Homo sapiens: one gene and its partner. The protein of the gene in region 1 interacts with the protein of each later gene in a pairwise test. Each region holds a gene or a part of one and is shown on either strand. Other genes may lie near its edges.

Region 1 (3,923 bases):
AAAAAATACAAAAATTAGGCGTGGTAGCGGGTGCCTGTAGTCCCAGCTACTTGGGAGGCTGGGGCAGAAGAATCTCTTGAACCCAGAGGTGGAGGTTGCAGTGAGCCAAGACTGTGCCACTGCACTCCAGCCTGAGTGACAGAGCAAGACTCGATCTCAAAACGAAACAAAACAAAACAAAACAAAAAAATCAACCCCTGGCCCAGCAGGGTAGTGCAAGCCTGTAGACCTAGCTACATAGTAAGCTGAAATGGCGGGGGTGGGGGGTGCACCCCAGAAGTTCAAGGTTGCAGCGAGCTATGATTGAGCCACTGCACTCCAGCCTGTGCAACAAGGCTAGCCCCTATCTCGGGGGGGAAAAAAATAAGGAAAAAAATACAAAAAGATAAAAAAGATTAGGAAATGGCAAAAATCAACTCCCCCATTCTGATAAAGGTGAAATTAAACCAACTTTTGGCATCCCACAAATTCATTCACTGAAATTTTTAAAAAGCTCTCCATTTACCATGCCAACTTTCCTCCTTTGAGGAGTTTCTTTATAGAAGGCTTTCAAATTTCTAAATGGCATTTATAGGGTTTATCTCTTTAATTAAAAAAAAAAAAAAGAAAGAAAGAAATGGCTGGGTGTGGTGGCTGATGCCTGTAATCCCAACACTTGGGAGGCAGAGATGGAAGGATCACTTGAGTCCAGAAGTTTGAGACTAACCTGGACAACACAGGGAGACCACATCTCCACAAAAAATTTTAAAAACTAGCCAGGTGTGGTAGCACACTCCTGTAGTCTTAGTTACTGAAGAGGCTGATTCAGGAAGATTACTTGAGCCAGGGAGGTCAAAACCGCGGTGATCACGCCACTGCACTCCAGCCTTGGCAACAGGGCAAGACCTCGTTTCAAAAAACATAGAAACAAAACAAAATTTTTAAAAAAATTACTGTAAGTTTGCTAGGGTAGATATTAACCACTGGGAAGGAAAAAAAAAAATGTTACAGAAAAACATTACAGACCCAGGCAGGGTGCGGTGGCTCATGTCTGTAATCTCAGCACTTTGGGAGGCCAAGGTGGGTGGATCACCTGAGGTCAGGAGTTCGAGACCAGCCTGGCCAACATGGTGAAACCCTGTCTCTATTAAAAATACAAAAATTAGCTGGACGTGGTGGCACGCGTCTGTAGTCCCAGATACTCAGGGGCTGAGGCACAAGAATCGCTTGAACCCACGAGGTGGAGATTGCAGTGAGCCAAGATCACGCCACTGTACTCCAGCCTGGGTGACAGAGGGAGGCTCTGTCTCAAAATAAATAAATACATAAAAATAAAACATCATAGACCTAGTATTAAAATCCAAGCCTCCATTCTAAATCCATTTCAAAAATCATAGGAAGTTTGCAGAACTCAAGTTAAAATGTTAAAGATGGATGTAGTTCTAATCACTGTCCATGACTCTATTCTAAAGGATTAAATGAAGGGAAAAATAAGGTTTTTATGAGATTCACTGTTAGTATGGTTTCATGTTAATTGTTTTTTTTTTTTTTTTTGGCAATCCTGTGCATAACAGACCCAAGTTAGATTTTGCAGATTTACTGTTTGAAAAGCCAATGCACTATACAGTCAAGTCAGCCCTCCATATCTATGGGTTCTACATCCATGAATTCAACCAACCAGGAATAGAAAAATTATTTAACTGCATCTGTACTGAACATGTACAATTTTTTCTTGTCATTATTCCCCAAGCATACAGTATAACAATGATTTACATTGTATTAGGTATTATAGTGTAGAGATTCAAGTGTACGGGAGGATGCACATAGGTTATATGCAAATACTATACCATGTTCCAGGGACTGGAACATCCTTGAATTCTGTCATCAGAGGGAGGTTCTGGAACTAATTTCCCATGGATACCAAGGGACAACTGTACTTGGAAACTGCCATAACCTTAAACTATGAAATTAACTCATATGAAATCCTGCAATTGAAATAAACAATTCCAGAAGAACTACTTTGCCACAGGATTGTCTAAAATGCACATTTATTAAAATGAAGATAGCTAAGAAGCATGAATGATCACATCTTATGTTAATAACTGAACAAACACCTTCCAAGTTGCCTATTTTGAAAATTACTTTTTAGTTCAAAGTCTCATCTTAAATAACCACCCATTATGGTAATAACCACCTCCGACAGAATATTTGGCAGTGGGTTAAGCACTTTTAACACATTTGATACTTACAATAACCCTATCATGAACATATTATCAGCATTTTACAGCTAAAATTTAAAACTTGCCTACCACCCTTGCCCAAACTAAATCTCTGTCCACAGGAAAAAATTATAACTTTTTATTGCAAATATACACATTATATATAATAGCATAATAACACAAGTAGTCACACTGGTACATTCTTACATATATGTTACTGTGCCTTAAGACAGTTTTACAAACTTTAAAGTACTACAAAACACTTGCACCCTATCATCTGTTTCCCACGACAGCCTTGTTACGGATTATCACTACCTTATATGAGGGCTCCAGGCTCTGAGAGCTTAAGTGAAATCACTCATTTGATTCCTCATTCTTTTCCCACTACATTATCCTCCCTATGATTAAAGAAGCATTGCCGCCACAATCAGAGCATCTTTGCAATAAAAGATAAAATGTTACTAGAGAACCTAGATAAGTATTCTTCACCAGTTACATACTTCTCCAACAAGTTATTAGAGTTACTGGCCAGCAGGATATCCAGCTAGCCTCTAAGTGGTTGTTTGGGGACCAATCATAAAGTTGTATGAACAGGAGTTGTATGAATACTTTTTATTAAGCTAGTAGCTTAGCAAGGGAATCCCCTACATTCTACTTGTACTGGTCCGAAGACCAAATCCAAGGTCAATCAAAAGTACATATTATCTCCTTGGGAAAACAGAGGATGTTAGTCTTTTATGACTTAAAAGTTGTTTCTAGTAACTATCATCCGACCATACACCACACAGCCATTTGTCTCAGAGTAGGTAGTGAAGGTGGCTACTTAAATACACACATTTTTAAAAAACTGTATCCAAGTTTAGCAATATGTGTATATACCCAAGCACACAGAGACACGTTCCATAACTTGGAAAATCATCTGTAAAAGTTATTTTGGCTTTGCACTTCTGAATACTTCATGCTTCTCCATGACCATAACAAACAGAATTGTTCTACTTCCTTTACTAATTGTTCTACTTCTTTCTATAATATCTACCAAGTATTATCCTATTGCCATCATATTTTCAGGTTGGTACTTTCTTCCTGCTATCCTTTTTATGGGGGAGACAGAGTTTCGCTCTTGTTGCCCAGGCTGGAGTGCAATGGCATGATCTCGGCTCACGGCAACCTCCACCTCCCAGGTTCAAGCGATTCTCCTGCCTCAGCCTCCTAAATAGCTGGGATTACAGCCATGCGCCACCACACCCAGCTAATTTTGCATTTTTAGTAGAGAGGGGGTTTCTCCATGTTGGTCAGGCTGGTCTCGAACTCCTGACCTCAGGTGATCCACCTGCCTCGGCCTCCGAAAAGTGCTGGGATTACAGGCGTGAGCCACCGCACTCAGCCTGCTATCCATTTTTAAAGCCATAGAGAAAGCCCTCGAGTGTTGTGTATCATGTGCTGTGTGGAGGACTAACGGATAGGAAGAAAACTACTAAAGTAATGAATTCACTGTGGAATCAAGTTCAGTTATTCTATGTTCACATCTACATTCCTTAAAGTAAATAACTCTCAAATTTTCTAGAAAGTAAATAATACACCTGGACTTTGAAAACCCAAAATGTCTACAAAATCAGAATACCATTACACGTTAAAAACAAGAAAGAAAAGAAGAAAGCTGCTTCCCTGCACCTATCTGGAGAAAATCTTTGCGCTGTAAAGCTCTAAACCACCATTACCAAAAAG
Region 2 (3,923 bases), on another chromosome or scaffold:
GTCTTTCCCCAAGGATGAGTTTGACCTCAGGTACTTCCATTTGTGCCACTTCAATCTGCTTTTCTCCTTGTATCAGAGATTCAAATCTTATTCAGTCCATTTCTTTAAATTACAGCTTAAGGACCAGCATTTGTAAAATCTATTTTAAATTAACCTTCTGATGTCATGAAGCAATTCACACATACCATTTGATTTCAAAGTAAATTTGCTATTACTCACTTTATTTACTGCATAAACATATTGATATAAATGCTTATATCTTGTTCTCCATTTCATAATTTAGAACTTATGTTTTAAAAACGACAACTTCTCACATTTTCCCCCCTTTAAGCATCTACTATAAAGCACTGAGTGTTTAAAGCCTGATGCTTGAATATTCGTTTTTCACAGTACCTTGTATTGTGACTTTCCATCACTTTTCCATGGATTATCACTTGATACTTGTTAATGAAATATTTTGGGACACACAATTTAGAAGAGCAGGCAGTTTTTCTAAAAGAGGTAATCACATTTATTGAAATTGCTTTATAAACAACTATCATAGAGCCTTTAAACTTCTACGTTTCAAGTAGTTATAATTTTCCTTCCATAAGTTGACTTTCTGCATGCATAAATAAAAGATAATTGAAGCCAGTCAATATTTGTTAATCGTGTCTTAAGTGTGCAGCGAGAGACACAACTGTTTTCTGCAGCTTCCTACTCTGATAGCCATGATTCTCAACCCTGGCTGCACTCTGAAATCAATTGCTGAATCCGAATTTTTGAAAATAAGATCAGGGCATCTGTAGTTTTAAAAGCTACCCAGTGTTTCTGATGTGAAGTTACTATTGAGAACTACTGGCTTTCAGAATAAAGCCAGTAGTTTCAAACTTCCAAGCACAGCTTTTAAGGTTGTCCACAATCTGGCTCCAATCTTCCTTTCTTGTTTCTTATCTTACTGTAACCCTCTCTTTGCACACCAGCCAAATTCTCTTGGTTATTGTCTGACAGACTGTTTCCTAAAGGATTACATATTGCCAGAGAAGTCCAGAAGAATTAGGATGTTATCCACAGTTAACAGCTTAGAGGGTAAGCTGCAGAGACAGAGTGGTAGCCCAGAGAAAACACCACGAATGATACTTAGTAAACTCTGTAAAGTGTTTGTTGATTGAAATGTTGCCTACTTTTATTACCCCAAATAAACATTCTTATTCGGCTTTCAGTTTTTTATGATATAATTTAAATTACACTTACACACACACACACACACACACACACACACACACACACACCCCCAATACACGGGTCTAAGTTGAGCATTGTTAAAACCCATCAACCAAACATACGTCCAAACCAGTTTAGTAAGTTTTCTAGGGCCTCTATAACTCACCTTCTTTTCTACTTCTCATACATTAGCAACAACTACACGCGTGGAGTGAAAAACATGGGAAAGACCAAAGAGGAATTCTAAAACTGACGGGGACAGAGGGTGGCGCTGGCTTTAAAAACCGGCGTTGAGGAGATACCTGGTTTTTGAGGTTAGTCCGGAGGGCGCAGGAGCTGGCAACAGGAATGGACGCACTCGTATCGGTCTCCGGGATGGAAATCTGGTGCGAGGGTCCCTCAGCCTTCTTCTCGATGCCTACATGGGAAGGATGCCTGGTAATGAGCAAAGCCGTCTCTAGAAGTTGGGAAAACCGGCAGCCTCTGCAGCAGTCTGTGCATCAGTCGCTGAGCAGGCGCCTTGGCAGGCACCGTTCCCTTGGCAACAGGAGCTTCTTCCGGTCCTGAAGCCACGCCTCCCCGGGGGTCCTGGCGATTCAGCCGTTGTGCTATAGCTTCTGGGATTGAAGAGCTCCGGGAAAAGGTCAGAGGCGCGCCGAGGAACTATACATTGAAGAAAAATGTGTGCACAGGTGGCAGGGTGAGCTGCCTATTTCCTGCGAGGAGCCGGGCAGTTCCCGGCGTAGCATCATGGGAGTTGTAGGCTCGCGCACAGCTTTCTGGGAAGCGTTTGGCGTTCGCGTGTGCTGCGTGTTTGTCGCTCGGCCCTGGTCTTCCTGGGGATCCAAGAGGCTGGCGCTGGGTGTGGCGCGGAGAGTGTCGTTACCGGGCACCAGCGTAGCGTTGTGGCAACGACTGCAAGACGATACTGTCCCCCCTGGGGCAAGATGTGCGCCGGAGTTCCCCAGTTGCCCATCGCACCGACTCTTCTCTGGGTTCTGATAGGCCTCCCACCCTGAGTCCCTGTAGAGGTAAAACTGTTAATACAGGAAGGTAGAGGGGAGAACTGGTGTAAAAAGTCAAAAGGTGTTATTCGGCTAATAAAGTATGCCTGTACCCCTGCTTCTTAGTTGTGTGGTCTCCCGAAGAGATTTCTACCAGGCATAATCTCCTGTGAGTAGATTACAGTCTCCAGAATCAAATCGGCAGGTGGTCAGGAAAGGTATTAATAGTCAATACTTAAAGTTGACCACCTTCTTAAATTGCACTTGGATTTTATAGTCATAGTCACAAATGGTCTTCAAATAGAAAATATTTAGGCATACCCTTCCCCACATCTTTTATTACTGCGTTTTCCAACGGACACATTACAGATGCAGTCATTTTAAAGATCTAGCCTTTCAATCTGCCCAACTCCACTAACCTCACCCCCAGCGAATGGCCTCATTCTTCAAATAGGGGTTTGTATCTCTTCATTTTTTTTGTTTGCATGGGTGTAGGATTTCCGACCCCCTGCCCCCCACCGCGCGACCCTTTTCAACTAGCTAGTGTATGTTTACTGCACTGCCTGTTCTTTGGCCTGTCAATTCATTTGGCCTATTAAATGGACTAGGAGGGTGCAAAAAGAGACTAGAAGGAATTATTTCAAAGTAATATGGTAGGGGGGACGGTTGTAAGCGTGTGATTATGGGGTGATTTATCTTTTGTCACTTCTCCAAATTTCCAAATGTAATTGTCATTTTTACAGCGAAAAAACAAAAGCGGCTCTGGATTAGTGATTCTTGTTGAAAGACAAAAACAAAACAAAGACCCTATGGATGCATATCAACATATAAATGTCCTTGTAAAAATGGAGTATGGAAATACATTCTTTCTTACTGTGTGGTCTTAGCCCAATTTACCCTTCTCCGTGCTTCTATCCTCACCTTCAAAAATATAGTATTTATCTTATCTGGTAGTTCTGAGTATTAAAGATAACAGAAATACAGATGTTTGGCACATATTTATTGTTCAATAAATAATGTCCTGTCTTCTTTTGTCTTGAGCTTTTTATTGTGTAAACAAAATTGACCCAAACCGTAACTATGGTGGTTCTTTAACTTCTGAACTTCTAATCGTGAATGCATTGACAGGGAGGTGTTGAACACTTTTCTGTGTGCCTGGGTGTTGTGACTTACTTGTAAGAGATGGAAGCTAATGTGCTTGCGGCCAAAATATAACATTTTTTTTTCTTAGCGATCGGCAGAAATGTTATATTTCAGAAAACTTTCATGGACAGACTCAATTTTTCCTGCTAAAAGTTGATATTTTCTGCCTCTAGGTTGAGTTCATCTCTTTTGGCTTAATATAAAACATTTGGTGAAAACTGGAAATAAAATGGACATATTGAGCATCCAACTTTTCAGGAAAACAAGGCAGATAGATAATTCTTCTACAAAAATGTAGCTAGTCAAATCGTTATCTTAGATAAGTATAGTTGATAGATGGCTTATTACTAGAGATAAATGTTATGAAATAAAGCAGTAAAATAATCTAGAAAAAAATGTTAGCCTTGAAAATATTAAACTTAAAAAAACATAAAGGCTGCCAGGCCCGGTGTCTCACGCCTGTAATCCCAGCACTTTGGGAGGCTGAAGCAGGTGGATCACCAGGTCAGGAATTCAAGACCAGCCTGGCCAACATGGTGAAACCCCATCTCCACTAAAGATACAAAAATTAGC

The links.
Region 2: the proteins of ATL2 (region 1) and ARL6 interact in a two-hybrid assay, tested with the Homo sapiens proteins (one study listed by BioGRID).

The regions. Positions count from the first base shown.
Region 1 is NC_000002.12:38,370,608-38,374,530, forward strand, and holds part of ATL2 (atlastin-2), read right to left. Parts: intron 1-3,923. UniProt on the Homo sapiens protein: Atlastin-2 (ATL2) is a membrane-anchored GTPase that mediates the GTP-dependent fusion of endoplasmic reticulum (ER) membranes, maintaining the continuous ER network. It facilitates the formation of three-way junctions where ER tubules intersect.
Region 2 is NC_000003.12:97,762,560-97,766,482, reverse strand, and holds the start of ARL6 (ADP-ribosylation factor-like protein 6), read right to left. Parts: upstream 1,726-3,923; 5' UTR 1,506-1,725; intron 493-1,505; exon of another isoform or gene 394-492; intron 1-393. UniProt on the Homo sapiens protein: Involved in membrane protein trafficking at the base of the ciliary organelle. Mediates recruitment onto plasma membrane of the BBSome complex which would constitute a coat complex required for sorting of specific membrane proteins to the primary cilia.